2 linked regions of the Homo sapiens genome follow. The protein of the gene in region 1 interacts with the protein of each later gene in a pairwise test. Each region holds a gene or a part of one and is shown on either strand. Other genes may lie near its edges.

Region 1 (3,500 bases):
TGGTGTGATCGTGGCTCACCACAGCTTCTACCTCCTGGGCCCAAGTAATCCTCCCACCTCAACATCTTGAGTAGCCGGGAATCACAGGCATGCACCACCATGCCCAGATAATTTTTAATTTTTCTGTGGAGACGGGATCTCCCTATGTTGCCCAGGTTGGTTTCGAACTCCTGGGCTCAAGCGATCCTCCTTCCTCGGTGTCCCGAAGTGCTAGGATTACAGCTGTGAGCCACCGTACCCAGTCATTTTTAATCTTTTATATTTTTACTTACCTTTTCTAGGTTTAGATATGTTTAAATACACAAATACTTATCATTGTGTTACAGTTGCCTGCAGTATTCACTACAGTAACATGAGTTATAGGTTTGTAGCCTAGAAGCAATAGGCTATACCATATAGCCTAGATGTGTAGTAGGCTATACCATCTTGTGTAAGTACACTCTATGACGGGGTCCTCAACCCCTGGGCCACGGACCATTACCTGTCTCTGGCCTGTTAGGAACCTGGCTGCACAGCAGGAGATGAGCCCTGGGCCAGCAAGCATTACCGCCTGAGCTCCGCCTCCTGTCAGATCAGTGGCCAGTGGCATTAGATTCTCACAGGAGCCTGAACTGCCCACACGAGGGATCTAGGTTGCATGCTCCTTATGAAAATCTAACTAATGCCTGTTGATCTGAGGTAGAACAGTTTCATCCCGAAACCATCCCCCCACCATCCGTGGAAAAATTGTCTTCTACAAAACTGGTCCCTGGTGCCAAGAAGGTTGAGGACCACTGCTCTATGATGTTGGGACAATGACAAAAATCACCAAATTACACATTTCTGGAATGTATCCCTGTCCTTAAGTGATGCACGCCTGTAATCTTTCTCTTTAGATTTAGGACTGATGATTTTTCTCTTTAGATAATAATATAGCTAAGACTGAATTTGCTTTTTCTTTCTTTCATACCACGCTAGTTATTCATTTTGAACTTTTTGCCCCCCAAATCCCTCAGTCTTTTTTAAGTATTTATTTATTTATTTAGACAAGGTCTCACTCTATTGCCAGGCTGTAGTGCAGTGGCGCTATCCTCCTAGGTTCAAGCGATCCTCCCGCCTCAGTTTCCTGAGGGAATATAGGCATGCGCCACCATTCCTGACTAATTTTTGTATTTTTGGTAGAGACAGGGTTTCACCATGTTTCCCAGGCTGGTCTCCTGAGCTCCTGAGCTCAAGCGATCTGCCTGCCTACTGGCCTTTTTTCTAGATTTTTCTTTCTTTCTTTTTTTGAGGCAGAGTCTCACTCCATTGCCCAGGCTGGAGTGCAGTGGCATAATCTCAGCTCACTGCAACCTCCACCTCCCAGGCGCAAGCAATTCTTGTGCTTCAGCCTCCTGAGTAGCTATGACTGCAGGCATGCCAGGCTAATTTCTGTATTTTTAGTAGAGACAGGGTTTTGCTGTGATGGCCAGGCTGCTCTCGAACTCCTGGCCTCAAGTGATCCACCCACCTCAGCCTCCCAAACTGCTGGGATTATAGGCATGAGTCACCACTACTGGGCTTCACTGATCTTTTATATATATATATTTTCATTTTAATTTCGTTTATTTCTATTCTGGTCTTTATTATTTCTTTTCTTCAACTAACTTTGGGTTTGGTTTGCTTTTGCTTTTCTAGTTGTTTAAGATGCATCATTAGGTTGTTCGGAGTTTTTCCTCTTTTTTGATGTAGGCACTCATAGTGATAAACTTCACTCTGTATCCCATACGTTTTGGTATGCTGTGTTTCCATTATCATTTGTTTCAAGAAAATTTTCAATTTTCTTCTTCTTCTTCTTTTTTTTTTTTTTTTTTTGAGATAGAGTCTCCCTCTGTAGCCCAGGCTGGAGCGCAGTGGCACGATCTCTGTTCACTGTGACCCTGCAACCTCCGCCTCCCGGGTTCAAGCGATTCTCCTGCCTCAGCCTCCCAAGTAGCTGGGATTACAGGCACCCACCATCACACTTGGCTAATTTTTGTATTTTTATTTTAACTAATTAATTAATTAATTTTTTGTTTGTTTTGAGACAGAGCCTCACTCTGTTGCCCAGGCTGGAGTGCAGTTGCACCATCTCGGCTCATTGCAACCTCTGCCTCCCAAGTTTAAGTGATTCTCGTGCCTCAGCCTCCCAAGTAGCTGGGATTACAGGCGTGCACCACCACTCCTGGCTATTTTTAAAAAAATATTTTTAGTAGAGACCGGGTTTCACCATGTTGGCCAGGCTGTTCTGGCCAACATGGTGAAACTCCTGACCTCAGGTGAGCTGCCTGCCTCAGCCTCCCAAAATGCTGAGATTACAGGCATGAGCCACCACACCTGGTCCTTTTTTTTTTTTTTTTTTTTTTTTTAATACAGGACCTCTCTTTGTCACCCAGGCTGGAGTGCAGTGGCATGAACGTATAGGTATGCACCACCACGCCTGGCTAATATTTGTATGTTTTGTAAAGACTGGATTTTGCCATGTTGCCCAGGCTGGTCTTGAACTCCTGAGCTCAAGTGATCTGCTTGCCTCGGCCTCCAGATTACAGGAGGTGCTGGGATTACAGGTGTGAGCCACGGTGCCCAGCCTCTATATTTTCTTTTTCTATTATATTTATGATGATTGTTAGGGAGGTAGACATTAGCTAATTTGTTTCATCAAGTCTTCAGAATATAGTTCCAATGTATACTCAATACCAGCCCTGTCCAGTAGAAATATAATGTGAGTTAGAAATGTAACTTAAAATTTTCTAGTAATCACGTTTAAAAAGTAAAAATAAATAGGTGAAATTAATTTTTAATATAATAATAATTTTAATGCTATAGCCCAGCATATTCATACATTTTTGTTCCAGCATATAATCAGTATACAAAATTGCTGAGATATTTTACTTTCTTATTTTAAACTAAGTCTTTGAAACCCATGTGTATTTTACAATTAAAGCACATCCCAATTTGAACTAGCCACATTTTAAGTGCTCAGTAGCCATATATTGCTACCATATTAGAGAGTGCAGATCTAGACTAAAAAGTTTAGTAGTAAAACTCAGTCAAGATAATTGGCTTTCATTGAATCTCAAAGGACTTTATTTGTAATCTTCCCTGAACTATCTTTTCCTTTAAATACAACAATGGGATCCTCAGATTAAGAATGACAGAGTTATTAGGAAATATCCCAAGACAGGGCCACATAGTTTAGAATCATGAGCATACTTATTTTACAGCCTGTACAGAAATCTTACAGATAATCAGTGAGATAATCACTGATGCCACCTGGTATGCACCTATTAGGGGGAATAGTACAGTTTATGGCCGGGTGCCGTGGCTCACGCCTGTAATCCCAGCACTTTGGGAGGCCGAGGCTGGTGGATCATGAGGTCAGGAGATCGAGACCATCCTGGCTAACACTGTGAAACCCCGTCTCTACTAAAAATACAAAAAATTAGCTGAGTGTGCTGGCGGGCACCTGTAGTCCCAGCTACTCGGGAGGCTGAGGCAGGAGA
Region 2 (3,500 bases), on another chromosome or scaffold:
CGCACAGGGCCAGACGCGACTTGCCACCCTCCTTGGCTTGTAGATGGATAACTGAGTTCTACAGGTAGGGATTTGTCTAGGTCTTAAGCTTGAGGTAACCAAAAGAGGATTAGACTTGGATTTTCAAGCCTGTGTAAAGCATGCACTCATACCCTGTCCTCAGTGGGATTTGGACATCTTTGCTACTGGTTGCTGGGGGGAAAAGATGCTGTGGGTGGAAAATGGTATATTAGCCAAGTGACTCTCAATGGACCATTCATATATTTTCTACTCCCTAGTAAATTTATCTTAACATATTAAGAAAACAAAATGGTTCGTAAGTGGTTGTGCTTTTAAAATTTATGGATTTAGCAACATTTTACAGATTTCACTTGTATGACTGAGTTTTTGCTAGTTAGATGAATTGTTAAAAATCTTAAAGAAACGAATGTATCCTATAGTAATATAATTTGAAAACAAATTGTTTTTAGTGTTTTGAATGAAGCACTGCCAACTCCTCAGCATAGATCCTCAGACATACTTTTGAGTAAGGATGCGTTATTAGACCCTATTACTGAAAATATAGTTGAGGCTTTAATATGTATATTAATATAAAGCAGAATGAAAATTTTCCTCTTTTTTTTTTTGTATTCCATTGTATAAATATACCACAATTTATTTCTTCTCCTGGTGACAGTCATTTCAGTTATTTTCAGTTTGGGACTCTTATGAATAAATCTACGATGAATAGACATGTCCTTTGATGGCATATGCATTCATTTCTCTTTGATATATTCAGTGGCATTCATAGAATATTTGATACCTGGAGTAGATCATTTTTAGTGATCCCTATCTTCTATACAGCAAAATTATTTTCAGCAATAATAATGAAATGAAATGGATAATAATGACAAGAAAAAATTACCAGTGGTTTTTTTTTGTATTTAATTTTTAATTTTAAATAATTATATATTTACAGAAAGTGCACAGATAGTACAGAGATCCCATTTACCCTTCACCTAGTTTCCCTCAATGGTTATATCTTACATAATTGTAATACAATATTAAGACAAGGAAACTGATAGTCATGGAAGGTGTGTGTAGAGTTCTGTGCCATTTTATCACCTGTAGACTGTGTAACCACCCTACAATCAAGATACAGAACTATTCCATCACTGCAAAAATCTCCTTCATGTTACTCTTCTAGAGTCATGCCCACTACTCTCACCCCCATCATTCCTAACCCTGGCAACAACTAATCTCTATCCCCATAATTTCATCATTTTAAGAATGTTATATAAATGGAATCACACAATATGTGATCTTTAGAGATTGGCCTTTTTCACTCAACATAATGCCTTTGAGGTCCATCCAAGTTGTTGGAGGTATTGTTAGTTTGTCTTTTTTATTGCTGAGTAGTATTCCATTGCATGAATGTACCTCAGTTTGGTTAAACCGTTCACTTACTGAAGGACATTTTGGTTGTTTCTAGTTTTGCTCTATTATAAGTAAATCTGACAGGAACGTTTGTGTACAGGTTTTTGTGTGAACATATGTTTTTGTTTATTGAGGATAATTATCATATACTATTGCTGGATCATATGCAAATTTGTTTTGTTTTGTTTGAGACAGAGTTTCACTCTTGTTGCCCAGGCTGGAATGAAATGGCGTGATCTCGGCTCACTGCAGCCTCTGCCTCCTGGGTTCAAGTGATTCTCCTACCTCAGTCTCCCGAGTAGCTTGGATTACAGGCATGCACCAACCAAGCCCGGCTAATTTTTTGTATTTTTAGTAGAGATGCAGTTTCTCCATGTTGGTCAGGCTGGTCTTGAACTCCCGACCTTAGGTGATCCGTCCACCTTGGCCTCCCAAAGTGCTGAGATTACAGGCGTGAGCCACCACTCCCAGCCATAAATGTAATTTTTTCTTTTTTAATAAACACTAAACTATTTCCTAGAGTAGCTGTACCATTTTATAATCCCACCAGCGGTATATGAGAGATCCAGTTTTTCCACATCCTGGTCCTTTTGGTAGTGGCGTTATTGTTTTGTTTTGTTTTGTTTTTATTTTTAGCTGTTCTAATAGGCGTGCTGTGATATCTCATCATGGGCTTAATTGGCATTTACCTAATGGCTGGTGATGTTGAGCAACTTTTCATGTGCTTATTTTCCATCTGTACATTTTCTTTGGTGAAATGTCTCTTTATATCTTTTGCCCATTTCTAATTAGATTTTTAGAATTTAGCTTGTTTTAGCTGCTAAGTTTTTGCCTTTTTTTTTTTTTAGCTGTTAAGTTTTAAGGATTCTTTATGTATTCTAGACAGTACTTCTTTGTCCGATACGTGGTTTTTTTCCTAGACTATAGCTTATCTTTTTTTTTTAAATGGTTTTTTCTTTTCTTTCCCCAGACATTCAGCAGTCTTGTCTTATTTATCCTATTAAAAGGATCTTTTACAGAGCAAAAGCTTTTAATATTAATGAAATCAAATTTGTCAATATTTCTTTTATGGATTGTGCTTTTGGTACATTATGAAATTTCTTTTTAAATGCCCTGTAATTATACATGGTTAATGATTAGACCCCAGATTAAGGTAGGCATTTCGAGGGTTTGTTTTGGGGTGTTTTTATTAACGAATACCCTAGGATGTTTGGTCAGAATGCCTGTGGATCAGAGGTAGTCTTGCCTCTGTCAGTTGCTGGCAGAGGTGATGCAATGAAACACCAAAGAATCCAGACTCCAGGGCCACACTGCCAGCTCTTCAGTCCCAGTTCTACCACATATGAAATGGACAAACTTAGGTAAGATGCTTAACTGCTGTGTGCTTCCATTTCCTCATCTGTAAACCAAGGACAATAAAAATAATAAAAATAAATTTGCAGTAATGTTCATTGCCATATTGATTATTATGAAGATTACAAGAGTTCATATGTGTTAAAGTGCTTAGAATAGTGTCTGGCAGATAATAAGCACTTAATAACTTTTGCTAATAATATTCCTACTACTGGTTATGTGACTTGGGAAGACACTTAGGCTCCCTGAGTCTCTGTTGCTTTAACTCTAAGATGGGGATGATACCTGCTACCTGCAAACTATAAAGCACTCACAAACATAAAGTTTTCCTCTTATCAATGATTATTATCATTAGAATAAATAAATATTCTGTCTATCATTTAATTTATTTTTTTAGAAACTGGGTCTTACGGCTGGGCGCAGTGGCTCACGCCTGTAATCCCAGCACTTTGGGAGGCTGAGGCGGGTGGATCACAAGGTCAGGAGATCAAGACCATCCTGGGTAACACGGTGAAACCCCGTCTCCACTAAAAATACAAAAAATTCTCCAGGCGTGGTGGTGGGCGCCTGTGGTCCCAGCTACTCCGGAGGCTGAGGCCGGGGAATGGCGTGAGCCCGGGAGGCAGAGCTTGCAGTGAGCCGAGATCGTGCCACTGCACTCCAGCCTGGGCGACAGAGCGAGACTCCGTCTCAAAAAAAAAAAAAAAAGAAACAGGGTCTTACTGACCTAG

Evidence for each region. Proteins that work in one complex are often made in the same cells at the same time.
Region 2: the proteins of TEX11 (region 1) and CFAP53 interact in a two-hybrid assay, tested with the Homo sapiens proteins (one large-scale study listed by BioGRID and IntAct).

Annotation. Positions count from the first base shown.
Region 1 is NC_000023.11:70,898,712-70,902,211, reverse strand, and holds part of TEX11 (testis-expressed protein 11), read left to right. Parts: intron 1-3,500. UniProt on the Homo sapiens protein: Regulator of crossing-over during meiosis. Involved in initiation and/or maintenance of chromosome synapsis and formation of crossovers.
Region 2 is NC_000018.10:50,252,996-50,256,495, reverse strand, and holds part of CFAP53 (cilia- and flagella-associated protein 53), read left to right. Parts: exon of another isoform or gene 1-731; intron 732-3,500. UniProt on the Homo sapiens protein: Microtubule inner protein (MIP) part of the dynein-decorated doublet microtubules (DMTs) in cilia axoneme, which is required for motile cilia beating.